Homo sapiens: one gene and its partners. The protein of the gene in region 7 purifies or fractionates together with the protein of the main gene of each other region. This does not show direct contact. Each region holds a gene or a part of one and is shown on either strand. Other genes may lie near its edges.

Region 1 (4,170 bases), on a different chromosome or scaffold from region 7:
GCTGCTCTGTGGTGTCCCACAGCTCTTGACCTCTTGCTCTCCCTGTCCCCTGAGAACCTGAAGAAGGAAGTGAGAGATGGCTCCTCAGGATGCAGCCGGCAGAGGCCAAGGCTCCAGGACTGACAGTAGGGTAGGTGGAGCTGATGCAGTGGGGTCCACTTTGTCCTGGAGCAGGTGGGGCCCTTGGTACACATTCAGGGCATGCACCTCACCTTGACTCCTGGCACTGTCTGGGCCCTTTCTGCTCTGTGACCTGAAAACACTGCCTTAGACCAAGGCCTCACCTCACAGTCCCTGGAGCTCCTGAAAGAGGAATTGAGGGGCCCTCAGGGTTCAGGCTGCAAGCACAGCCCCAGCCTCCCAGTGTTGTCAGGAGGGTGGGCTGGACTCTGTGAGTTCCCCACTACCCTGGGGTGGGGAGCCTCTGTGCTCACGTGGGGCTCTCACCTTTCTCCTGGAAAAGCCTAGACCCTGCTCCTTTGCTGGTCTAAGAAACTCTCAGATCAAAAGCTTACATCCCTGATACGAAATAGAAGACATGAGGGGACCCACATCTGGCCACAACTGCAGAGGTCCTCCCAGAAAAGACAGCAAGAGGTGGCCATATTCAGCTGGGTCCATGTGTACTGGGGTGAGGAGCCTGCTTGGTCCTCTTCTTGATGCCTGATACGACCTGGGACCCTCCCTTTGTTGATCTGAGGCCACTTCCTTAAACCAAGGTCCTACCTCCAGGAGACATGGAAAGAGGAAGTGAGGGGAGTCCATCTACCCCCAGTTCCCCATGAATTCCCGTGGCTGACAGAAGGGGTAGGGTGGGGCTGAGTCCTGTGCGTTTGGAGAATGGTGTCCCCTCAGTCCTCACCTTGACTCCTGGCAGGGTCTGGGACCCTCCCTCTGCTGACCCGAGTGCAGCTCCCTTAGACCAACACCTCTCCCTCCCAGAGACCAGTGATCCTTGTATAAGACAGGGAGACTCAGCGGACAGCCCTGACTGGGTTCTCCAGAGTGACAGTAGGGTCATGGCAGATTTCTGTGGGGACCCCATCTGTGTTATGGGCTGGGGGTACCCTCAGATTTCCCTCAGGTTCCTTACCTGGACTCTTGTCAGATCCTGCGACCCACTGTGTCTGTAGAAAAGAGGGGTTCCCTGTGTTGACTTGAGTCACCCTCTGAGAGCAAGGTTCTCACCTCCCTGAGATTCCAAAACAAAAGTAAGAAGGAGCCACATCCTGTCATCCCTGTGGGGTGTCCAGGGCTGATATCTCCCCTTTACACCAAAACTCCATTTCCCTGAGGGTTCCTCATCTTCCTGCCTGTGGTAAAATTGAGCTTGCCACTTAGTGCCAATCCTGATCAGGTCCCCTCAGAGCTAAGAACAGGGGACAGCCAGACTCTGTGACATCCCTTCTTTCTGGGCTGCAGGTACCTCCAGTCCTCACTAAGGGGGCACCCCTTGGGTCCTGCAGATTCTGGGACTCCTCCCTCTGTTGACCAAGTGTGGAACCCTGTAATAACTTCTTAGCAACCCTCAGACCAAGGTCCTCACCTCCCTGAGACCCGGCAGGCAGAAGTGGGGAGGGGCACCACACGATCACACCTGCATGGGATTCCCAAAGCTGACAGAAGGAGCAGACATTTGGCGGGGGGGGGGGGGGGGGTGGTGGGCAGGGGAGGGGGACAAGACGGGGACTTCCTTTATTTGGGTGTCCTCCAGGTATTCAGATTTACTCCCGACAGGGCCCAGCCCTTTCCCTCCTGCTGAATCGTGTATGGGTCTTGCACGCCAAAGCCACCATCTCCCTGGGATCCCCGGTGAGAAAGTGGGGGCCACTTCTCTTCCTCACCGTCCTGCCTGGGGTTCCAGAGCTGATAAGAGGGACAGATTTCCTAGTTCTGAGATGCGGGGATCTGCTGAGTCCTCCCTCAGGGCTCTGGGACTCCTCCCTCTGCTGACCTGAGGCTCCACTCCTCAGACCATAGCCCTCTCCTCATTGACACCCCAAAGGCACAGCAAAGACACATCACATGGGCCACCGTGCCTGAAACCACCCAGGGCTGAGGTCCCCACTGATCTGGACTCCAAGGTCCCTTGAGTCCTTTCTCTTCTTCCTCCCCTTGACTCTTGGCTGGGTTGTTCTCCTCTACCACGCCCCGCCGCAGACCTGAGTCACCGTCCCTTGGATTCCTCAGGCCGAGTGAAGAGACATCTCGGTCTGAGACAGAGGTGGGGTGGGCACCCTGTCCTGGGATCCCTTCATGCCTCCCTCATTTCCCAGCAGGGCCCGGGCCTTCCCTCTGCTCCCCTGAAGCCGCATTCTTGGTACCAATATCCCCTTCCCTACGTCAGCCTCAGATGCCGACGTCAGAATTTGCGTTCCTGGTCGCCATGACCAGGGCTTCCCAGGGCCGACATCAGGGGCAGAGCCCTCCCTGAGCGTCCCGACATTGATGCTGGCAGAACCTAGGCGCGGCTCCCGCCGAACCAGCCGGGCCCTGGTCACACCAAGCTCTGACTCCCAGAGTCCCCTGCGGCTTAAGCGGCGGGAGAGAGTGGGGGCGGGGGTGGGGGGGGGGTGACAGCCCAGCCTGAGAAGTCTGCCCTCAGGTGGTCCAGAGCTGGCAGCAGAGGCAGCGCTGTATTATTTAGGGCTTTCTATCTGGGTTGGGGGCGTCCTCAGTCCTCCCTCAGCCTCTCACCTTGCCTCCTCACAGAGCCTGGGCCCGCTCTCTTCAGCCGATCTCAAGCCTGTCCCTCAGAACGAGAACCTCGCTTCTCTCTGATCCCCGAGGCGTAAGTTAGTGGCGTCACATCCGGTCCCCGGGGCTTCCCTGGGTTGACAGCAGGGGCGGAGTGGATTCTGCCGGAACTGGGGTGGGAGTTGGGGTGGGAGTGAGGGTGGGAGTCCGGGTGGGGTGGGGTACGGGTGAGGATGGGGTTGGGGCAGGGGTGGTGGTGAAGATGAGTGTGGGGAGGGGCGTGGAGGTGGGAACTGGGATGGGGATCTTGGGGCTGTGGGTCGTGGTGGGGGTGGGGGTGGGGTCTTTCAGTCATCCCTCAGTGTCTCGACCTTGATGCCTGGAAAAGCCTGGACCCCTGTTTTGTGCTGAGGATGTCTTCTCCCCTTAAACCAGGTCTCTTGACTCGGAGTCTTCCAAGGTGGCAGTGAGGGGAGGGTTGTGGTAGGGGTGACAACATTGCCAGGGTCTTCCAGGGCTGACAAGAGGGGCTCAGCTGGATTCTGTGGCCCCTTTGTGAGGGGTGGGTGGACCCTCGGTCCTCACTCAGGAGGGTCTTCCTCCTGGCTTTTGTCTCTTTGATGAAGTGATGGGTGGGAGATGCTCAGTTTCCGTCACCTCTGATCATTTGCCCAGCTGCATCCCTTGCAGAGCATGGGTGCGGTTCCCAGGCCAGATGGTCCCTGGGGAGCTGCAACACCCGTGATTGTAATGACCTATGGGAGAAGACGCACACCTTCCCAACGGGGCTCTTCCCAAGCCACAAGTAGACTTGGCAAACTTTTTGTCCTAAAGGGTATATTTTCTACAAGAAAGAGGCTGAGCATCGGGGTGTGGAGAGGTCCTGCTGTTTTGAGTTTAGCTGATATTTTATAGTCCAATGCAGTGATGTCTGGTTTTCTAACCCTCATTCCTAGTAAAAATATGTGTTTTAAATGTCTGCCAAGTGTATATTGAATACATATATAACATTTCATGAAAGAATACCTACCTTACGCTGTGTGGTTCACTGCTTATTCTATTTCTGGTCTATTCTTTATATTCTATTATAATAATTTTTCTCTTTTTTTCTGAGCAAGAAAATTTAATATAAAGAATTATTAACTTGTAGCAGAGGATCAACTAAGACCAGTCGTCACTGTGGTGGTTTTAGGTGGTTAGCAGCATAGACTCCGGAGTCATACTCCCTCAATCAACCCCGTCTTTCCTGCTGTCCTGATATCACTCCAGAGCTACTGGGCTACTGGCATCGTGGTATGAAGTGTTGCCTCAGATTGTGCAATAAAGCAGGGCCAGAAATTCAAATATTTCTTCCTACTCGTCCTCTTATTTGCCGTCTATGCAGGCTGCGGACCTCCGCAAATGCACTGTTGTCCTCCACTCCCCCTACTCCAAACACAAGGTCCAATTCGAAATTCTGCAGTCTGCTTAGGG
Region 2 (3,500 bases), on a different chromosome or scaffold from region 7:
TATCTTAAGCTGCTACATTTTGATGTAATTGGTTATGCAGTAATAGATAATACAGAAACCAATGGGAGGAATGCATTTATTGCCTTTATTATTCATCTTGCTGTGATGGTCTTAGCTGTAATCCTGCAGTTCTGGGGGCAACATGTAGAGTGCTCAGTCACAGGAACCTGGGACCCTGCTTATATCAAAGGAAACTGTTTCAATTTGGCCCATGTTATCTCCTTCTCCAGGCTTTCATCCAGTTTCCTACTTTATATTCTAGCAACAATGAACTACCTATTAGGACTTCTTTGTGAGATCTTCATGGCTTCCTGCTTCAACCTTCTGTACAGGCTATTTTGGTTTCCTCCAACCAGAAAACCCCCCGGCACATCCCAATATGTTAAGATCCAATTCATATGATCACATTATTTATTACTTCATCACTATTTATCAATTACCTGCTAGGTACCTATATCAGTTAGGGATATATTAGCTGCAAATACCAGAAGCCTAACCTCAGTGGTCTAAACAAAGAGAGGTTCATTTGTTTCTAACATGACAAAAAGTCTGGAAGTAGGCACCTAATGACATGAAATCATGGGCTCAACAATGACCTACAATTCTTTCAGTTTCTGTCTCATGGTCACATCATAACCTCAATAAAGGCAAGAAGGAGGAGCAAGAAGCTGTACTAGATTGGCTATTCCTCTTAATCAAGAACACAAGAGCTTTTTTAGAACCTCCTGTAGATTTTGCTTCTGTCTCATTGGCCAGAACTAGGTTACATGGCCACTGTAGCTACAACAGAGGCCAGAAAAGGCATCTATTTAGCTTGACAGCCTCTCCAGTGAGAACAGTAAGGGAAAGGGGATTGGAAACTGGATTAACTAATTCACTGTGGCTGCCACAGAGTTGGGGATACAAGTGTCTGGGACTTGGGAGGGTGGAAGGCTGCTGAGATGGCTTCTTTGACATCTAGCTTAGGTTAACTCATCTCTGACTTACCTTTAATAAACCACAAGCGACATTTTATTGAAAAAGCCTGCTTATGTGTCTTTCCTATCCACTGGACAGTAAACCCTTTAGGAAGGGAAGTGGTGTTTTCTCCTTCTTGGGATTTCAGCTCGAAGCACAGAGCCTGGCCCAGAGTAGGGATCAGTGAAGACTGAAACAGGGCACTGGCAGGCTGGAGGGCATGTACTCTGAGCTACAGTGTGAAGATGAAAAGCTCTCAGCCTAGGCGGGCCGTGGTCTCTCCATACTTCCTTTGAGGCAGCAGGAATACCCCCAACTGTGTGGGAAGAAAGCAGTCAACAAGCTGCTGCTAGCTTTTTCCCAGGGAGGTTGGATGGTTTAATGAGATATTTGCAAAGTGTGCCAAGCTATTCACAAGAGCAGCCTCGTGATGACTGTATCTGAAAAGGTGGCTGTTTTTTTTTTACAACTGTTATGAAGTCTTTCAAAATCCTGTTTCATTTTGACAAAATATACATTGTTAGCACCATTAAAATATGTAACAGCATCTCAGGTAACCTGGGGCTCTCATCCATTTTTCCAAAAGTTCCCAGAAACTATAAATTAGAACAATTTGTTTGAATGGTGGCATCAACAGCAATGAAGTGTGATGCTGAGAAGGAGAATAAATGACCTTTAATAAGTGCCTCTCTTTCTTTTTTTGCTGTGGGCATACTGAGCCACACTGTTCTAGTGGTGACTGTGCTATGTCTGGGCCATATCGCAGGCTGAAGGACACAGGAGTGCACATTCCCAGGATCAGTAACAGGGTCAGTGCACCTGTACCATGTGTACACTCAAATTTGCTTCAACTAAGTACCCTCCCAAGCCAAACCCAGCGAAATACAGTGATAGGGCTAAAATGGAATCACTCCAGGGATCCACCAGGACAATAAACTGGCTCTAATTTGAGTGCAAATCTCATCAGACACAAGGCAAGATGCATGCTATAAAAGTGTCCCATCTGCCCTTATCATCTAATAATATCTAGTGAGACGGAGCAAGTGAGGGAGACTTCTGCTATTGGGGAAGGCTTCTCATCAATAAGCATTTAATGGAGGCCAGAGAGTGATAATTGCAGCTGAAGGATTTAACAAGTTGAGAATGTGGTGTACAGGCTTGTTGGAATTTATCATTAAACTGGAGACAAGGCAAACAGGTTCTACCTTTGGCTCCCGCCCCCTCCCCAGCTTACTGCCTCCCACTCCATAGTCATCTAGACAGCATTTCATCCCACTCCTCAAGCACAACATGCTGCTTCTGCAAAAGCAGTCATGACCACCTGAAACGCCATCCTGATGATCTGCCTTCAAGGTTTTCTCCCTGGAATATTTACCTCCCCCCTACTGCCCTCACCACCATGCTAACTCTGTACTTGTTACATATTTTATCACCTTTTTGTTTCTTCACCAGAGAACTGTCATTTTTTTAATGCATGTTGCTCTTCTCCAAGTGGAAGATAATATCTTAGAGGTTTTTTATTTTTTATTTGTTTTTTTAAGAGACAGGGTCCCACTTTGTTGTCCAGTTTGGAGTGCAGTGGCATAATCATAGCTCACTGCAGCCTCAGACTCCTGGGCTCAAGTGATTAGAGAGTGGTTTTTAAATTCATCTTGGTCCTTTCAACTCCTAGCACTGTGCCTGGCACCAATAGGTACTCAGGAAATGTGTGTGGAAAGAACAACAGAGTCAGTGTCTATCCCTGACCAAGTATTTTTGTCAGATGTCTACCTCCTCTCTTTGGTTCTGTCCCAGTCAATGGAATGAGCCTTCCAGAGATATAAAGTGAACTTTCTGGCTCCCTGAAGGCACACAAGATCCCTCCCCAAAGCCCCACTTCACCCGACTCAATCTGAAACTTAAAAAAGACATCCTTGCCTATTGGGCCCTCTTTACCACCATGATCCTGTCAACAGGGATATGCTGGCCTCCTGCACATTGACACCAAGGTCATCCCTCTGCCCTACAGAACTGGAGGTTGATGGCTGTCCATTTGCCAAGACAGTCCAGACAATTCCTTCCAGATTTTACTGCCTAGACATTGCTCACTGCACTGGTTTTCAGAGTCCGTCCAGTTTCTCTACAACAGCCTGGTCTCTGGCACTGCCCTGACTGCCATCTACTCAGTGGACAACTGCTTATTAAGCATCTACTAGTGGCCAGGCCCTCTACTGGACAGTAGGATGCAATAGGAGGCAATGCAGATGCAGCCCTCACCCTCAAAGAGCTTCCAGTCATCTATGGGAAGGACAATTCAATAGGCAATAACCCCCAGGGTAAGGGATCAGGGCTCAGGGCTTAACACCTCACTGCAAGAGGCTGAATAATTGGCTCCTGAAAATGACCGTGTCCTAATCCTTGGAACCTGTGAATATGTTATATTACATGGCAAAAGGGACTTTACAGATGTGATTACATAAAGAATCTTGAAATGAGGAGGGTAGCCTGGATTACTCAGTTTTATCATGAAGGCCCCCATAAAGAGGGCAGCAACGGGGCTAAAC
Region 3 (3,947 bases), on a different chromosome or scaffold from region 7:
CGGGATACAGGCGAAATTCCACACCCTCCCTCTTCTGAACTTTCACAGGAGTTACCCTCAACTGACACCTCCTTATGCGCTGCACAAGTGATTCGTGTCTTTTGCTCCTTCATACCCTCCCACAAAGCCTACACAGAGCCATGCAACTGTCAGACTTTAATAAATATTATGATTGACTAGTAAGTAGGAGGATGAAAGAGAAGAAACAGAGGCTAGTCATTATACTCCAGCAGTATGTCTATTTTTTAAGAATGGTTTGACATTCAGGATAGGCAAAGCAGCACTGCCTACTTAATTCCCTTAGAAAAGTCACCTCCCTTGGCCTGCAGCGTTTAGCAGGCTGACTCATTCCAGTTGCTCTGCCAGTCTTTTTTTTTTTTTTTTTTTTTTTTGAGACGGAGTCTCACTCTGTTGCCCCGGCTGGGGTGCACTGGCAGGATTTCCGCTCACTGCAACCTCCACCTCCCGGGTTCAAGCAATTCTCCTGCCTCAACCTCCTGAGTAGCTGGGACTACAGGCATGTGCCACCACACCCCGCTAATTTTTGTATTTTTAGTAGACACAGGGTTTCACCATGTTGGCCAGGCTGCTCTCAAACTTCTGACCTCAGGTGATCCGCCCGCCTCGGCCTCCTACAGTGCCGGGATTACAGGCGTGAGCCACCACGCCCGGCCGTGCTCTGCCAGTCTTAAGAGGAAATTCCTGGTCCTGCACACTCAACAAAAGCAGAGAGCAACTTGGCAGGACAGACAGCATGCTGGGAAAAGGAGGCAGTGGCTCCGGGATCAGAAGTGGCGGGATTTTTTGTTTCAGTCTTGCAACCAACTTTCATTGAGCAATGACATAGTGGAGGGCGAATAAGATCAAAGGGGCTGTACTTGGTATGGAAAAACCACAGAAGGGTGGAAGCTAAGCACCTTCGCCTTGAGAGTTGGGTCCATCCATACCTGAAATGGACCCCTGTGGACCCTTGACGAACAGGGCAGTGGCCTAGACATTCTCGTGTGTCTGTCACTCACCAGCTGGGGACTTTGTCAACTCATTCCTCTGTCTAAACCTCAATGTTCTGCTCTGGGAAATGAAATCAAAACTGTTAGTCCTCCCTCCCAGGGTAGTTATAAGAATTAGATAATATGTGAGTGAGTAAGCATTCTAAACACCATATAAATGTGGCTAGAAGTATTATTCACCAGTATGATCTAGTATTTTTGGCCCTCCTCTTCCCCTAAAGCGGAAGTAGGGCCGGGCGCAGTGGCTCACGCCTGTAATCCCAGCACTTTGGGAGGCCGAGGCAGGCGGATCACTTGAGGTCAGAAGTTCGAGACCAGCCTGGCCAATACGGTGAAACTTTGTCTCTACTACTAATAAAAAATTAGCTGGGTATGGTGGCACATGTCTGTAATCCCAGCTACTCAGGAGGCTGAGGCAGGAGAATCGCTGGAACCTGGGAGGCAGAGGTTGCAGTGAGCTGAGATCGTACCACTGCACTCCAGCCTGGGCGACAGAGCCAGACTCCCTCTCAAAAGAAAACCCAAAAAAGCTGAAGTAGGACTACGTCAAAGGCCCACCTGGGCAGGCTGGTCCAATACAGGACAAGGGACCTAAAGATAGATGGTATTTCATTTGGACCTGCAAATGAGTAAGAATGCCAGCTCCGGGTCTATTAAAAACCCCGCTCGGATGTCTCCCACAGGCAGAGCTGAGGTGGGGCCTTGCCTGAGGCTTCCAGGGATGCGCTGGCTTCCCTTCCAACCTCCTTTTCAGACAGCTCTGCCCATTCAGCGGTTCCTAATGCAGAAAGAATGGGCTCCCCGGAGCCTGCCGGCTTCCTTACAGGTCACCGCTAATGCCCTGTGACAGGCCCTTGGCCCACCCTGCCAGGCGGGCCTGGGCATCCTCGCGGCGGCCCATCCCTCGGGGCCGATTCCTCCGCAGCCATTAACAAAGGGGGTCTGGGGACTGCCTCGGAACTAGGGGGCCGCGTGGAGTGGGATGTCTAGGCCAGGGCCCGCCAAGGAGGAGCGGCCGGCTCCCGCCTCCGGGCCTGGGCAGGCAGCGCTAGGGGCCGGTCGGGAAGCACGAAGGAGCCCGGCCGTGGGTCCGGAGGCCGCAGTCGATGGGGACAGTTGCGGGGCCGGGGGTACCCACCTTCTGCTCGACGCCCTGCAAGCCCTGGCCCAGCTCCTCCCTCTGCCGGGAGAAGTCCTGGTGGCTGCGCCGGACCTGCTGGACCTCCTCCAGGACGTGGTGGACGCACCAGCCCGAGAAAGCGGCCGCCGCCACCAGGGCGAGGTAGAAGAGAAAGTTGAGCGCCCTGCCGAGCCTGCGCGAGCAGGACGCCGAGGACGAGGCGGCGGCGGCGGCAGCGGCGGCGGAGGCGGAGGAGGAGGAGGAGGACTTGCCGCCGCCGCCGCCGCCGCCGCGGTGGCCGCCCTTGCCGTGCGCCTGGTTCTGCGGGTGCTGCTGCGGGTGCTGCTGCGGGTGCGGCGCGGGCGGCGGCGGCGGCTGCTGCGGCGCCGGCGGCGGCTTCTTCGCCACGTCATCCGCGCCGCCCGACGGGTGGGCACCCTTCTCCGAGGGGCTCGCGGCGCCGTGGCCGCCCTTGGAGCCCCTTTGTTTGGCCGAGGGCATGGCGGGCGCGGCGGCGGCTCGGGCCGCGGGCTGGGAGGCGAGCGAGCGCGGCGCGCGGCCCGGGAAACTTGCAGGGGCTCCCCCGGGACTGGGCGAGCGGCACGCGGGCGCTGCTGGCGTCGGAGCGGCGAGAGGACGCGCGGCCGGGGAAGGAGGCCGGGCCGAGGAGGCGGGAGGAGGGGGCCTGCCTCCGCCGCCGCGGCGCCGACCCCGCCTCCCGGTAAGGGAGGCCGAGCGAGCCGAGCCGGGAGAGCTTGCCACGCACGCCGGCCCGGCGGCCCCTCCTCCCCGCCGCCACGACCCCGGAGAGGGAGGGCCGGGCGGGGTCTACGGGGGCCGGGAAGCCGGCGCGGGGGTGGCTGGGCGCGGGGCGGGGTCCCGGCGGGGTCTGCGGAGGCCGGGGTGGGCACCGAGGTGGCCGCGAGGGGAGGGGAGAAGAGCGGAGCGGAGGGGAGGGGACGCGGCCGAGGTGGGGCTGGCGGCCCGGCGGGTTCCACGCAGGCTGGGGGCGGAGGGCCAGATCGACCCCAGCCGGGGCGGCCGAGCAGGGTCCACGGGGGTCGGGGATGGGCGGCCAGGCGGGGTCGGAGGGACGAAAGCCGGGGTGAACCTGCGCCGCGGGCCAAGCGCGACCCCCTCCCTTCCCGACCTGTGCGGAGAGGAGAGAAATGAAGGGGGGCGCCCAAGGAGCCCTGGCCCCGGGAGTGGGAGTCAGCGGGTGGGAACAGATCGCCCTTCCTTTCCGCTGGGAATTGGGGGACTCCCCCTGCTTTCACTCTCCCAGCCCGCCATGGGGTTGGGCCTTGTCCTTTGCCTTGGGTTTGAAGGCGGAGACAAAAAAGGCTGTCCAAAATCCAGCCAGCTTGGGAGGCATGGTTGATGCGAGTTAGCAAAGATTCTCGACTGTGGTAAGTCTGTTCAAGGGGACGCATTCACCAAGTGTCCCCGTTAGCCAAGTTAGCCTGCTGTGGCCAGCTCTTTACTTTTTCCCCCCGAAGCCCCTTCAGCTCTGTTTTCTCTTTCGGGGTCATGAAGTTTGTCCACGGCCCCTACTCCTGACAGCCTCTGGGATGGGTGCTGCGGAGGCAGCAGCAGCCACACAGAAAGAGGCAGATCAGCGTTGTCACCCCTACTTTTGTAAAAGGAAATCTGGTATTGCCAGGCTGTGTGGTTAGCGACTCACATATGTTCTCGAAATCTCACAAAAGCCCTGTGAGGTAGAAATTATTTTACCCATTTTATAGGAAGGAAATTGAGACTGAGCGAGCCGGCTTCGGATTGGCTCAAGGTCACATATAGTCATCATTCGAACCTCA
Region 4 (3,500 bases), on a different chromosome or scaffold from region 7:
AATGATATAACCAGAATTTCCATAAGATTTTTGCCATCTAAAAATAGTTTTAAGAAATGCTTGAATGCACAAAAGGTTAACTTTCCACAGAATCTTTTCTACTTCCCCATAATATTGTTTTTAAAAATTCTAGGCCGGGCACGGTGGCTCATGCCTGTAATCCCAGCACTTTGGAAGGCCAAGGTGGGTGGATCACTTGAGGTCAGGAGTTCAAGATCAGCCTGGCCAACATGCTGAAACCCCATCTCTACTAAAAATACAAAAATTAGCTGGGCTTGGTGGAATGCACCTGTAGTCCCAGCTACTCAGGAGGCTGAGACAGGAGAATTGCTTGAACTCAGGAGGCAGAGGCTGCAGTGAGCCAAGATCGCACCACTGCATTCCAGCCTGGGCAACAGAGCGAGACTCCATCTCAAAAAAAATAAAAATAAAAATATAAATAAAAATTCTATAATAGAATTTAAGAAATATTCCCCATAGACATGGATATACTGAAAAATCAGTACATTGTGATGTTGACCTGGATGAACAGTAACTCTTTTATACGTTTGTTTCCCTTTGTCAATATTTGACTTTGACATTTAAAAACACGTATTTAGCAACACAGTTGAAACCACAGTGAAAAATTACTCCTAGGTATATGAAAGTGTTATTATACATATGCATGAAATCCACATAGCACACAGACCTCCATTAAAAGTATACACATCTCAAAGTTCTCTCCCAATACCTGTTCCCACAAGAGATGTTAACATATGACCTTGAATCACACAGGTGACGCTGTCAGCCTGATGAGGGCAGAGATCTATTTTGAAAACAGAACTCGGAAAACTATGGGGCAACACTGCCTTGCCCTCAGAAAGGAAAGATTGTGTGAAGGGTAATCTTTCCCTGTATCTTCAGAAAAAGATGAGACACTTTGGCATCATAAAACTGTCCTTGAAAATGTTACTTCTGATAAAGTGTCGTAGTCCCAAAGACACTCAGACCCAGAAGCTATTGCTGCACGCTATGAAAGTAACCTTTACCATAAAATCTGACTAGTTGGCTCCCTTAATAATATATTGACTTGGCAATGATATTTAAAACTGACACCTCTGTTTTCTGAAAGAAATACATATTTGTGTGAGTTTTATTTTTTATATTACTTTCTTCTTCATCCACATGCATGAAAGTCAAAATAAATGAAAGCTTCAACCCCACCAGCTTTCTTATTTAAAACGAAAAACAAAAACAAAAAACGCTTGAGTCTTGACTCATTTAAATTAACACAGAAAAAGAAAAAATGACAGTATAAGTTCATTTTAAAATGAAAATTATAAGGATAACTGGAATTTTCAAAATCATACTTTTATTCCTGAAATTTTATCCTTAAATGTTACACATGATATATCCAGAACATCTTTAAAAACAATACTTACTGTAATTGCCAGGAGATTTTTCTTCATAAGTAAAATGAAGTTGTAATTCCTCCTCTGACATCTGACAGATGAACACTTTCAGCAAACAGCAAATAATAAACAAAGCATTGTGTGTCTGCCAAATGAAGATGTGGCTAGAAAGACCAAAATCATACAAGAATCAATATTTAAACATAAGCACCATAGTTTATTTCTAGTTCATGATTTCTTCCTGATTTGACAACCGTTTTGTCCATCCTATTGGTAATATTAGGATAATGTCCATATCTTTTAATGGCTCATGATTTATTTCATTGTACCAGTGATATTATGTTTTACTTCATAGTTCATTCCATGTACTTTACATAGTGAATCTACTTAATAAAAATCTTTACTGATGACTGTAGGAATGACTGTTCTTTGTTCTTAATAGGTATACCACGTACATGCGATTAAAAGAGAAGAAAGCTACCAAAAAATTTAAAAAATTGTGGTAACATAAAAAGAATATATGCAAATATGTAACCAAAATTTTCGACGAGGCATTGCCAGCAGCACGGTAAAATACTTTTTATTTGTATTAATGACCATGAACTCCCAAGAAAAACTTTATTGGATTCAATGTAATTTGTTTATAAGCAAGACAATGCAAAATATTTTAATCTTTTCAGAGACTGACATCCAAACATGGTTTTGAAAAATGCTTCAGTGCATAAAAAGTTAACCTTCCATTGATGTAAAGAATATAACGGAAATAACTGCAACAGATGTAGAATGAAATAAAACTCAGACTAAGTCATCATTTAAACTAGATAGCAGCAGCAGTGATAATGGGGGGGAGGGGAATTACCTTCTTAACGATAATTACATCATTATTCACCTTCTTAAAGAATATAATCTAAAGATTGTCTAAAAAGCTGAAATCAGATTCCCGAATCTATAATCTCACCCCAGTGACTTAGACACTAACCTAAAACCTCTCTACCTTTTTTTCTTAATAATGAGAATAATTCCTTCACAGAGATTTTCAAAAGACCACAGTCCATTTCCATCAATAAATGAAAACTAAAATTCACATTGTTAAATATAAAGCAAACATGGTTTAATTAGCCAGCTTACTTCTGACATTCTGCTGAAAGTTTTAGTTCTTTGGTTCTAGAAAGGAAGACCTTAATTAGTGCACCAAGATTTCCTGTTCGAGGATTGTTTTCAACTGCAAGAGAAGAAAAGGTTTTAAAAAGTTAAATTTAAGAACTAAAATCAAAGTGAGCTTATCATAACATTTATAAAACCAAATGTCATATTAAAATTGCTCAGTGACCAACTTTACTGTTAATTTCATACCTAATTAGAGAACTAAGCAATGAGAGAAACTGCTGCTCTTGGTCTTAATTCTGAACATCAAAAACTGATTTGCAAAATGAAAATGATAGAAACAGTACAAGTAGCCATCTTATCTCAGAATCCAAAATCATAAAGGAAAAAATAGTTAATAGACACATTCAACTTACACACTAAATCTTTCTCTAGAAAGGAGATTTTTAAAAACTCAAAAATTGATTATCTATGTCTCCAGTATATAGAATATAATAAACTATAAAAGTTTATTAAATCTAAAACACTCTTCAGATTACAAATCATTTGAATGAAAAATTAAGAAAACATATCAACAAAGCAGTGTGGCTAGAAGGGGAGCTATTTGACCAGACAAAACTTTAAAGAATTTTTTTTTAACTTTAAACGATGGGCATTTCAGCAACTGTATCAGGAATCAGAAGATTTAGTTTCTAGATCCAGGTCTATAATTAACTGAATACTGAATCTCAGACAAATCACTGTACTTCTCCAACCTCAGTTTTCTCATCTGTAAAAGAAACAACAGCTAACATATGCTGAACAACATAGAGTAGGTGCTTTACATGCATTAACTCATTTAATCCTCACACCAACCCTCCAGGAAAAGCACTAGTATCACTTGCATTTCACCGATCCTCACCTGGAGGTTGTTACTTGCTCAAGGAAACATCCTTATCAACTGGCTCAAATCTTTGACTTTAAACTGCTAGGTTGAAGCAACCTCTATAATCAAGAAATTGGACT
Region 5 (4,289 bases), on a different chromosome or scaffold from region 7:
GGAGTTCAAGACCAGCCTGGCCAATACAGTGAAACCCCATCTCTACTAAAAATACAAAAAAAAAAACGCCAGGTACAGTGGCTCATGCCTATAATCCCAGCACTTTGGGAAGCTGAGGCGGGAGGATCACCTAAGGTTGGGAGTTTGAGGCCAGCCTGACCAACATTGAGAAGCCGTGCCTCTACTAAAAATACAACATTAGCCGGGCATGGTAGCACACGCCTGCAGTCCCAGCTACTCGGGCGGCTGAGGCAGGAGAATTGCTTGAACCTGGGAGGTAGAGGTTGCGATGAGCCAACATCATGCCATTGCACTCCAGCCTGGGCAAAAGAGCGAAACTCCCTCTCAAAAAAAAAAAAAAAAATTAGCCGAGCGTGGTGGCGGATGCCTATAGTCCCAGCTACTCAGGAGGCTGAGGCAGGAGACTAGCTTGAACCTGGGAGGCAGAGGTTGCAGTGAGCTGAGATCGTGCCACTGCACTCCAGCCTGGGCGACAGAGAGAGACTCCGTCTAAAAAAATAATAATAATAAAATCCCATACATGACAATTCAGTGACAATTGAGAAGTTCTGAATAATGGGGTGAGGAACTGATTGTCTTGTTCTCGGTAATGAACATCAGGCTTTTAACAGAGTGCATAGCAGCTGTCTTTTAGGAAACAACACGCCACAAGTGGACCTCATGACCCCAGGCATTCTGTCACTGTATAAGTGATATAAGTGCACCTCTAGCTGGACAGCTCCTCAGGTCCTCCCAGTCTAAAGTACAGGATGTGAAAGTAAGACGGTTCAACTCGCACTTTATCTCTGGGGGATGGATCCAACGAGTCCGGGAAGGAGGGTAGAATCTTTATGTTGCATCTCATAATCCCAAGGTTGTTTTTTGACATTCTAATTATTGTACATAGTTAGCTTTTCAAAAACATGGCCCACCAGCTATCATGCCTTCTTTCTTCTCTCTCTCCTCACACCTTCTAGGTCCACAAAGTCCCACTAACATCAAGCATGATCTCACCCTTAAACAGAGCTACAGAGCCTCCAAACATCTGCATACTCACCAACTAGTAGTACAAGGTAAGTCAGAATTCTTTCAGGCTGAACCAGGATAGCCAAATGAAAAATTAGAGACTTCAAAGTATCTTGTCTCTGCAAGCGACTGCTAAATCCTCAGCCCCAGCCCTAAATGTTCTCCAAAATATGTTTTTGTTTTTGTTTTTTGAGACAGGGTCTCAAACTCCTGGGCTCAAGCGATCCTCCTGCCTCAGCCTCCCTAGAAGCTAGGATTACAGGCGAGCAGCACTGTGCCTGGCCAAAATATATGTTCTAAAAATCGGTAGGAACAGTTCTCTTTGGATAGTCCACTGTCAACTGCAATAACACGAAAGTTGTTTAAAAAAAACCCATGATCTCATTATCTTTCACCAAAAACATTCCTCCTAGTGTAACTGCTCTGTTGACATCCTGTCACCAAATCTTGTGCTTTCTTCCTTCTGGGTGTCTCCCTAATGTCCGTTGCGTCCAGTCATCAAAAAGTTACAGGCTGCATTAGGGGAAGCCGTGAGCCTGGTGTAAGGCAACAGGGATTGGTGGGAACCGATGATCCTCAGCTCCAGCCAACCATTGAGCAGGTGACAAAGTGATGGTGGACCCTCCAATTATCTAAGACAGGCAAGAAATTTAGATTGTTAGGAGAAACTTTCTGATTTTTAAGGCAATATGTGGGCCAAAGAAAACATCTACAGGTCACTCATGGGCAATCCCGAGTGAACCAGGCTCCCTCAGTCTGGTCCAGGCTCCCTCAGTCCCTTCTACACATCACTGTCTGATCAGTTTCCCAAACACAGGGCTCCTGATCACTGCTATCTCGGAAAGCACAACTACTGCTACAAAGTCCTATACTGCCATTCAACCTCCACAGTAATAAAACCAATCCCTACCTTCCTTAACTCCCCTACACAGATCTTTCACTTCACCCAAAGGAGTCCACTCCCCCACCCGTCACCCCCGCCACTGTCCCCGCCAAGATGGCCTCCTTCCTACTCTCCTCCCCTACCCACCAGAGCCCACACGGTGCAGGAAACAACCCATCAACCGGGAGGACGCCCTCCAACACCTGCTGATGACGGACTGGCTCACTGGGTAACACCCCTTTGCTCAAAGCCGATGATTTCATGCCCAAGAAGGGATTTACATCTCCCAGGAGGCAAATGCTATGGCCTTGTCCTGATTCCCCCACCCCCCAAAATAATAACATTGTAAAAGGGAACGGAGAGCCTAAGTTGCGCTCAGAGGAGCCGCCTCCCTAAGAAGGCTCTGCATATCTTCACCTCCAGGAAGGCCTCACGGAGTTGGGGGAGAGGGGAGTCCCCGCAGCCAGCCCAGCGAGGCAGGAGGCCGTGCGCCACTCCCGAGAAGCTCCTTCCTGCGCCCCGGGGGAGCCACTTCAGTCAGACCCTGAGCCGGGACCCCGACCCGCCGACCCCTGACGCGCGCGCCGCGAAGGCCGGGCACCCGAGGGCCCTTCGCGCTACCCGGGCCCGGGGCCGCCGTCGGCTGCGACAAAGGGTCAGAGAACAAGACGACCCCTCTGCGCGCGTCCCCCGCAGGCCTCCCGGATGCGCCGCTGTCCCGGCCGCGCCCACCCCGACGCTGCCGCTACCTTGTCCTCGGGTGGCGCAACCGGCTCATGGGCCACCCTCTGCCTCAGCTCTGTCATCCTGGGAAAATCGGCCCGACGTCGCCGCGAGCTAGCAGCGAAGCCGCCGGAGCAGGCAGCTCGGCGCGGGCACGCGCGGACTCCCACGGCCGGCCCCGCCCCGCCCGGGAGGCGCGCGGCTCTGAGCGGCTCACAGTTCCCTTAGCAGCCCAGCAGCCAGCCCTGGAGCTCGGCCCCACCCAGTGCCGTCACCGCCCTTTCACCCGGGCCGAGCGGGGTCAGCCTTCCCTAGCCCCGACCCGAGAGCTCCCTCTCCCGGGAGCAGGGCTCGGAGCGAGTGCGCACGCGCAGCGCCACCATCACGGTCCGGAATATCCACCAATGGCGCAAATACGCCAGGGAGGCAGGGCGACGGGGGCGGGGCGGGGCGGAGCAGAGTCGAGAGGCGCGCATTGGACGGCAGCGTCAGGGGCGGGAAAAGGCGTGCGTTTCAGTGTGCGATTAGCCAATGGGAGCTCCCGCTTAACCGCGGATGGCCGGAGCTGGCGCCCTGGTTCTGGAGGTAACCGGTTACTGAGGGCGAGAAGCGCCACCCGGAGGCTCTAGCCTGACAAATGCTTGCTGACCTGGGCCAGAGCTCTTCCCTTACGCAAGTAAGTAGACGTTATTTAGGTCGAATGGAAAGGCCAGGTGAGCCGACCTGGTTAAGAGCATTTTATCACTTATCACATGATGAGAAATGAAACCCACGCTTCAGTCTGCTTTGCTTTGCCAAGCGGTCGCTAGTACTTGTTAAGCACTAATTGTATACTAGGCACTGAGCTGAGTAATCGCTTTAGTTGGCTTATCTCGTTTAATCCACACATGGCTTGGAAGTGGGTATGATTTGAATTTTACAGTTAAGATCTTCCTCAGTGGTTTGTTTGTTTGTTCGTTTGTTTGTTTGTTTTGTGACGGAGTCTCGCTCTGTCGCCCAGGCTGGAGTGCAGTGGCATGATCTCGACTCACTGCAACCTCTGCCTCCCGGGCGCAAACAATTCCAAGGTGCGCGCCACCACGCCCGGCTAACTTTTGTATTTTTAGTAGAGACGGGGTTTCACCATATTGGTCAGGCTGGTCTCGAACTCCTGACCTCAGGTGATCCGTCCGCCTCCGCCTTCCAAAGTGCTGGGATTACAGGCGTGAGCCACCGAGCCTGGCCCTTCCTCAGTTTTTCAAATTTGTCTTCTGGACTATGGAAAGACCTTTTTTGGGACAGAAGTGCTGTCTACTTTGTTTACTGTGCATCCTCTATGTCTTTGACACATCCATTGTAAGTACTTGTTGGATGGATTTAAAACTTTTAAAAGGACCTTAGCCAAGGTCTCCCAGCTAGAAAGTGCCTAGTAAGAATTAGAACACAAACAGGTTTGTTACCAGCCCACACTCTAACCACCATACTATACTGCCTGCCTGCATTTATTAATACTTGTGTTGCTCCAGCATTGCCTTTGGTGTTTCCTGTTCTTTCTATTCACTGCCCTGTAAGTGATGTAAAACACATATAACACTGCGTCCCCAACTTAAGCATACTGTAATCTCACAATGAGACACTTGCACACAAAAGAATTGCAATTTCGTTTTTTAAAAAAATA
Region 6 (3,500 bases), on a different chromosome or scaffold from region 7:
TGCGTCCACGTAGCTCTGCAACTTGTTTCGCATCTCTTTCTCGTTAAATTTGGCACTGCGCTTTACATAGATTCCTCCATGCTGCCACAATCAAATCGGGAGAAAGAGCATTTACTTTTAAAATAACAATTGGCCAGAGTCATCAAAAAGGCAACTTCTCTTGCAAAAAGTACAGAATGAAAACTACATTTCAGAATTTAATCTATATTTAATATCTTCAAACATTAGCTTCTAAAGAACATTTAGCTGAAAATTGCCTTGTCTCAACATAATTCAAAAAAACTGCATGTGACACTGTATTGGAAAACACATGAAGTTTAGTTTTGTTGGCAGTTAAAATGAAAATGCTTTCTTTCTTAAATACACATTTTTAAAAATAAAAAACCTGATCCATCAGATGGATTTAACTCCCAATTCTTCCACCCACTTATTACAGAGTCACTAAAAAGCGTCCTTAACATGTCTCACGATCTTTAGGGATTTTAAAAAATCAATCCTGCTAAAGATATTTATGTGGCACTGTTACGGACAGAAGTGTGTTCCCCCAAATCAGTCTACTAAAGCCCTAATAGTTCCCACTGTGACTGTATTCAGAGAGAGGGACTTAGAGGTGGTAATTAAGGTTAAAAAAGGGCCTCAGAGTGGGACCTTAGCAGTCTCTGTAGAAGGATTAGTCATCCAGTGTAACTAGTCCTTCTAAGAAGAGGAAGCAGTGCCAGCGGTGCTTGGGCACAGGGAAAAAAACCACCTGAGGACACAGGAAGAAGGATGCTGTCTGCAAGCCTGGGAGAGAGGCCTTGGGAGAAACTAACCCTGTCAACACCTTGATCTTGGATGTCTAGCCTCCAGAACTGGAGAAAGTAAGTTTTATATATACAGTTTGCTTTTTTTTTTTAATATCATACAGATCACTAATTACTGTTATCAACAGTTTAATGTAATTGCCTATCAAATTCTATGCCTTTAAATTTCCTATTTGTTTGAACTTTGTACATTTGCATTTTTGCTCTTTCATTTTACTGCAGCTGGCCCTTCACATCCATGAGTTCCACATCTGCAGATTCAACAAATCACAGATCAAAAATATGTGAACAAATAAAAATTAAAAATAATATAACAATTAAAATAATACAAATAAAAAATAAAGTATAACAACCATTTACATGGCATTTATAATGTATTAGATATTATAAGTAATCTAGAGATGATTTAAAGTAGTGCACAGGTTATATGCAAATACTATCCCATTCTATATGAGGGTCTTGAACACCTTAGATTTTGGTATCTGTGGTGGTTCTAAAACCAATCCCCACAGATGCTGAAGGAAAACCGCATATGGATAATCAGACGTATATAAATACACACCACTAAAAATGCCAAACAAAATTACTTCAACTGAGAATAAACTATTAAACCCATTTTAAAAACCATACATTCACATGAAGTATATTGTTAAATTTTAAAATATAACATTTTTATAGGGTTGGGTATGGCAGTTCACACCTATAATCCAGCATTTTGGTAGGCTGAGACAGGCAGATTGCTTGAGTCCAAGACCAGCCTGGGCAACACAGCGAGACCCCCATCTCTACAAAAAATAGAAAATTTAGCCGGGCATGATGGTGGGCACCTACGGTCCCAACTACTTGGGAGGCAGAGGCAGGAGGTTCACTTGAGCCCCAGAGGTCAAGGCTGCAGTGAGCTGTGTTCACACCACTGCACTCAGCCTGAGCAATAAAGTGAGACTGTCTCCAAAAAAAAAAAAAAAAATTTATAAACTACATATATAGAGAGAAAAGCATGGAAACAAGTTACCTGAGCAAAGTAACACCCATACAATGGCAGCCATTTTAACCCTTCTTTCAGCACGTAGCGCACATGTCCTAGCGCATTCTGCCTGATGGCCAAGATGTCAGCAACAATCCAGTCAACTGCAGAGACAGGACCCAGTTAGCGCGTACATGAGGCTCTTCACAGGTTGTACTATGAATGGGCTTCAAAAGTACTATGATGGCCGGGCGCGGTGGCTCACGCCTGTAATCCCAGCACTTTGGGAGGCCGAGGCGGGCGGATCACGAGGTCAGGAGATCGAGACCATCCTGGCTAACACGGTGAAACCCCGTCTCTACTAAAAATACAAAAAATTAGCCGGGCGAGGTGGCGGGCGCCTGTAGTCCCAGCTACTCGGGAGGCTGAGGCAGGAGAATGGCGTGAACCCCAGGGGGCGGAGCCTGCAGTGAACCGAGATTGCGCCACTGCACTCCAGCCTGGGCGACAGCGAGACTCCGTCTCCAAAAAAAAAAAAAAAAAAAAAAAAAAAAAAGTCCTATGATTAGGATGTTTAAAATTTCTTTAAATCTATCTGAGATATTTAAAAAATATACATTTTCTGTTTTTTGAGCTTTTTTTTTTTGCATTTCTTGAAAGGCTTTTTATTTCAAAGATAAAATACAGTCACAAAATACCTAAATAATCCAACAGCAGCATGTGTATGGAACAAAATGAGCTTCTCTAAATCCTAAAGTCTAGAAAACAAAGTTTTTTTAATGAGAAAGGGGAAATTATAAACAAAAAATGGCCAAATGCAACTATGAATTGCCACTAAATATTCAGTGTGTATATATATGTTCAGCAAAAGGCAAGGACACTTCATCTTCTACTAATGAGTTTTTAGGACTCGGTACTAGGTTAGGACAGCAATCAAACAAAGGTCTCACATGCCTTACAATGATGCTGGGTAGATATATGTGCTCCTTATGTAACCAAGTAAAATGATCTCAGACTGCTAATAACTATAGTTAAATAAATATGTTATTAACAAAGGGTTGCAAAAACAAGGGTAAGATGGTATGAATTGATAACAGTAGCAATAAAAAACTTCCTAGAAGTTGTTAGTTGAGCTTTCAAAAAGAAAAAATTTCCAACACAGAGAGTGGCCCTTGCCAATTAAACAAACAGGAAGTGGCAAAGTGGGTGCAGAAGATGGGAAACAGAGGACATGGTTTAAAGAGGAAATGAAGTGAAATTCAGGAGACAAATGATACAGGTCTTAAGAACCGCAGAAACTTGGATTTGAAAGTAAATGGCTACAAACTATCTCCTGATGAGAAAGAAAACATAAAAATGAAATGTAAGGGAGACTTCTCTAGTTAATACACACATGAGCTCAACGATACTCGAAAAGAAAACTGTTAATCTGTGAAAAGAATAATTCTATCATCACCCATGTTCTCAGGCCATGAAAATGAGAACAAAAGGAGTGAGTCAGAGGAAGGAAATGTTAAAAAAAAAAAAAAGTCTGTAGAAAATAAAAGCTGAGGATTTAGAGGAATTACAATAAAGTTTTAGCCAAAGAGGACAGTTTTCCACAGATTACAAGATGATTAGCTCTCAGCTATGGGAAATCTATTAGACAATGCACCATACTAGTCAGAATATCCCAAAAAAGATTTAGCCATTTTAATACTAAAAATTAACCAAGAAAAATCTCTTATCCATTA
Region 7 (3,500 bases):
ACAAAATATGATATTATTAAAATAAAAGTGTGTTATATCAGATGGGGTTCAGGGAATATTTAAAAATTATTTTTAAGAAATACAGTGCAATTTTTAGTTTACATTTAGATGAAGCTTACTAGATTAAAAGTGAAGTAAACATGAAAACATGTCACACAAAAGAAGGGGAAGCAGTAAATATAACTTGTTTGAAGAACTGCGTCTACATAGAACAAGAGATCACAAAACTGGAGATAGGGTATATAAAGAACATTTGTTAAGTAAGTTACTCTTAATTAAGATCAGGTTTTGGACTACCAGCTGATAATTTTGAAGTATGTCAGCTAATGATTAAGACTATTCTTCTGCGCTGCCCCACACAAACATTTTTTAAGTGTTGGTCATTATGCAATCCAATTGCTTTTAAGATAGCATTTATGCTTCTCTCCTGCTGTTTTTTTTTTCCTATACATAACCAACAAGTTATTAAAAGAAAAACAGAAGCTTTATCTCATCCAAATGCAACTGGGAAAATATACTACTACATGATGCCTATAAATGTCATATGTGGTGAGCTCCTCCAGATTTATATTTCATGAAAATAATGGTTGATGTCATTGCCAGACATCTTGCAGTTACCAGGACTTTGTAATGCTGAACAAACAAATTAACATTATTTTTCTAAAAAGTACTACTGAATAAATCTGAAATTATTATCTAAGCATGAATACATATTCCTTTTAAACCAAAGCATATTTTGAAAAGCAGTAATGCAAAAAGATTTAAAACCTACTACACACTGTATAAAAACAGAATATTTAGGATACTTGTCCTTGAGATACACAATATTACATAATGAATAGTTTTTATGACACACATAGCTAAAAACAACTCATGTTTCTTCTCATTCATAGAAGAGTTATTTGGTTTGGCCGACAGATGTGGAATTTTGGTTCTACAAAAAAGAGTACTCCAGGATTCTGCAAAGAGCCAAAAATTACATGGGCAGATGACATACCATATACTACTAGCCTTTACAAACAGCTCTCTAGCAAGAAAGCCAACCTTAGTCTTGTGTCTCAATGTAATTCTCTTGTTTAAGTGTAAGGATTATAGTTATGCTAAATAGTGAGATGACAGTCAATTCTGTAACAAGTTCACTGCTTTCAAACAGATAAATATCATTGTAACTACAGGACCATCACAAATATCTTTCTAATAAGCCTACTCCAATTTGGTATTTGATCCTAAGTAGTATTTGCAAACATTATCTTTCCTTCTCATGGGGTGGAATTCCCATGCCCTTCCATATTTATAGAGAGAACTTTATTTATAATTGCAGTCAAAATTCCAGGTGTGGGAGAAATGTATGCTACTACTATTAAAGAGATGAGCAAATTTTATTTCATAAGATAATTTCCTCTACTTTTCTTAAAACCATTTCACAAAATTATTTATTCATCTGTTTATCTAAAACTTCGTGAGAATTTAAAAGGTAAGATTATGTTGAAGAAGCCACAACTAAACTATATATACATTTATAAGCAATGTATATATAAACTCTCTCTGTATCTATCTCTATCTCTATCTAGTAAAGAGGGGCTGGTCACAAAATTGAATACAAGTATCCATCAAATATTTCTCCATCATAAGTTGAGACAATAATTTTTATTGCAGGGTATCATGCCAAAATTATATTTTTAAAAGGATACTATGCTCAGGAACATCAGTTTTCTCAAAAATTCAAGCTATTCATTAATTCATTTACTTCACAAATATTTGAGTACATACTATATGCAAGGAAATGTGTCAAATACTGTCAAGTAAAATTATACAAAAGTTAGCTGGCCCTCTCCCCTAAAAGGCTTATGATCCACTGAGATCAGCACTCACATCCCTTTAAAATACTTTATCCCCTTGAGCTAGAAAATTTGAGTGAGGAAGTATTAGAAAATATTTGGGCATTCCTTAAGTGGTAATTACCTGATCTTGCAATGACATCACTGGATTATTTTTGGTAGTGTTGATATGAAGGACATGGTATTTATTCTTTGCACACAGGTCATAGGCGATATTGGTAAATGAAGTGCTTGCCGTTTTGGGAACTCTGTTATAAATGATCACCATGTCCTCTTCCTCATCTAAAGTGGCATCTTGCCGAGGGCCATCCATTGTATGTCGCTGCTCAATTTCTCGGACTTCGTGTCTTGCAATAGCCCTTTCTGGAAAGAAAAACAGATACGAACTAAGTTTTTAAGGACACTATAAGGAAGTTATGAACACTGAACTTTGGACCATGATTAGAAAAGATACAAAAAAGAAAACAAAAAACAAAAGCAAAGAACCAAGGGATATGGAAAACATGGGTAAATTGCTTGGGTTTCTAAGAGGATCTAGTTGATTCTAAAACAGCTGTACAGCCTGGAACATAATCTTCCTATTCAAGAACTAGGTAAGAGCTGTTGAAGAAATGTTTTGAGGACCAAAGCTTCAGAATTCCTTATGAAGGATAATACATATGTATATCAAGAACAAAAAGGAATAAAGAGTCAACAAATGCAGAATAGCACAGACCACAGAGTACTTCAGTGCAGTTCAAAAGTCACTTTACATTCTAATAGAATTCCTACAGCCTGAACTAATTCTCAAACACACAAAGATTGCATGGAATACTAAACTTCACAGTATAAAAATGCACTTAAAAGAGAAATTACTTATAATTTAAGAAAAGGTTTTGAAATTTATTACCCGATTTAGTTATTCTCTGGTTTATAAAAATGTAGCAGGACAGTGATTATAAAGTGATTATAAATTATAAATTAAAAAACTGTAACAGGACAGTGATTATAAAGTGATTATAAATGCTAATATGACTTAACAAGAGTAGAAACAATATGACTTAGAAGGGTAGAAACAATACTACCATAAATCCTTTTTCTTTTTGGTGTTGCATTAGAAACTATGTTTAGCACATGGCTATGCTTTTCACTTAAATTTCATGGTTCCTCTAAAATTACCTATCTGCTATGTGGTTTCAAAAGCAGTTACATTTTGCTTTCTAGTATTCTCTATTTAATGCAAACTTCAGCTTCAAATATATATATTCAAATATCTATACATTCTAATATACATTCAAATATATATTTTTTCTTTTATAAATATATATGAATAAGGATGCAAGAAAAGGAGAGGAAAGAAGGAAATGAGGAGCGTGAAATCTCTAGCAAGATTGCAAATACTTTGCACGGGGATAGTTACACATATAGCACGTACTCTCTTAACCCCCAAGTCTTTGTGCAAGCTATCTCACCTATCTTGAACAATCTTCCATTTCCCCACCCAACCTTTACATTTCAACTCAATTGCTTCCCAGGGAAGCATCTGATAGCTCTGACTAGGTCAAATCATCTTTTTTTTTTTTTTTTTCGGAGACAGAGTCTCGCTTTGTCACCCAGGCTGGAGTACAGTGGTTCGAACTTGGCTCACTGCAACCTCTGCCTCCTGGGTTCAAGCAATTCTCT

What was found.
Region 1: the proteins of HS2ST1 (region 7) and MAGEA10 purify together in Homo sapiens (co-immunoprecipitation; one large-scale study listed by IntAct). This does not show direct contact.
Region 2: the proteins of HS2ST1 (region 7) and NMNAT3 purify together in Homo sapiens (affinity purification with mass spectrometry; 3 studies listed by BioGRID and IntAct, with this or other methods). This does not show direct contact.
Region 3: the proteins of HS2ST1 (region 7) and CKAP4 purify together in Homo sapiens (affinity purification with mass spectrometry; 3 studies listed by BioGRID and IntAct, with this or other methods). This does not show direct contact.
Region 4: the proteins of HS2ST1 (region 7) and DYM purify together in Homo sapiens (affinity purification with mass spectrometry; 4 studies listed by BioGRID and IntAct, with this or other methods). This does not show direct contact.
Region 5: the proteins of HS2ST1 (region 7) and CDS2 purify together in Homo sapiens (affinity purification with mass spectrometry; one large-scale study listed by BioGRID and IntAct). This does not show direct contact.
Region 6: the proteins of HS2ST1 (region 7) and AGPAT5 purify together in Homo sapiens (affinity purification with mass spectrometry; one large-scale study listed by BioGRID and IntAct). This does not show direct contact.

What each region holds. Positions count from the first base shown.
Region 1 is NC_000023.11:152,135,778-152,139,947, forward strand, and holds the start of MAGEA10 (melanoma-associated antigen 10), read right to left. Parts: upstream 2,801-4,170; 5' UTR 2,698-2,800; intron 1,193-2,697; 5' UTR 1,094-1,192; intron 304-1,093; exon of another isoform or gene 213-303; intron 58-212; 5' UTR 1-57. UniProt on the Homo sapiens protein: Not known, though may play a role in embryonal development and tumor transformation or aspects of tumor progression.
Region 2 is NC_000003.12:139,629,473-139,632,972, forward strand, and holds part of NMNAT3 (nicotinamide/nicotinic acid mononucleotide adenylyltransferase 3), read right to left. Parts: intron 1-3,500. UniProt on the Homo sapiens protein: Catalyzes the formation of NAD(+) from nicotinamide mononucleotide (NMN) and ATP. Can also use the deamidated form; nicotinic acid mononucleotide (NaMN) as substrate with the same efficiency. Can use triazofurin monophosphate (TrMP) as substrate.
Region 3 is NC_000012.12:106,245,221-106,249,167, forward strand, and holds the start of CKAP4 (cytoskeleton-associated protein 4), read right to left. Parts: upstream 2,801-3,947; 5' UTR 2,632-2,800; coding exon 2,149-2,631; intron 1-2,148. UniProt on the Homo sapiens protein: Mediates the anchoring of the endoplasmic reticulum to microtubules. High-affinity epithelial cell surface receptor for the FZD8-related low molecular weight sialoglycopeptide APF/antiproliferative factor.
Region 4 is NC_000018.10:49,377,146-49,380,645, forward strand, and holds part of DYM (dymeclin), read right to left. Parts: intron 2,614-3,500; coding exon 2,520-2,613; intron 1,556-2,519; coding exon 1,422-1,555; intron 1-1,421. UniProt on the Homo sapiens protein: Necessary for correct organization of Golgi apparatus. Involved in bone development.
Region 5 is NC_000020.11:5,125,519-5,129,807, reverse strand, and holds the start of CDS2 (phosphatidate cytidylyltransferase 2), read right to left. Parts: upstream 2,801-4,289; 5' UTR 2,716-2,800; coding exon 2,659-2,715; intron 1-2,658. UniProt on the Homo sapiens protein: Catalyzes the conversion of phosphatidic acid (PA) to CDP-diacylglycerol (CDP-DAG), an essential intermediate in the synthesis of phosphatidylglycerol, cardiolipin and phosphatidylinositol.
Region 6 is NC_000008.11:6,729,142-6,732,641, reverse strand, and holds part of AGPAT5 (1-acyl-sn-glycerol-3-phosphate acyltransferase epsilon), read right to left. Parts: intron 1,932-3,500; coding exon 1,816-1,931; intron 82-1,815; coding exon 1-81. UniProt on the Homo sapiens protein: Converts 1-acyl-sn-glycerol-3-phosphate (lysophosphatidic acid or LPA) into 1,2-diacyl-sn-glycerol-3-phosphate (phosphatidic acid or PA) by incorporating an acyl moiety at the sn-2 position of the glycerol backbone.
Region 7 is NC_000001.11:87,071,635-87,075,134, reverse strand, and holds part of HS2ST1 (heparan sulfate 2-O-sulfotransferase 1), read right to left. Parts: intron 2,202-3,500; coding exon 1,963-2,201; intron 1-1,962. UniProt on the Homo sapiens protein: Catalyzes the transfer of a sulfo group from 3'-phospho-5'-adenylyl sulfate (PAPS) to the 2-OH position of iduronic acid (IdoA) or glucuronic acid (GlcA) within the heparan sulfate (HS) chain and participates in HS biosynthesis.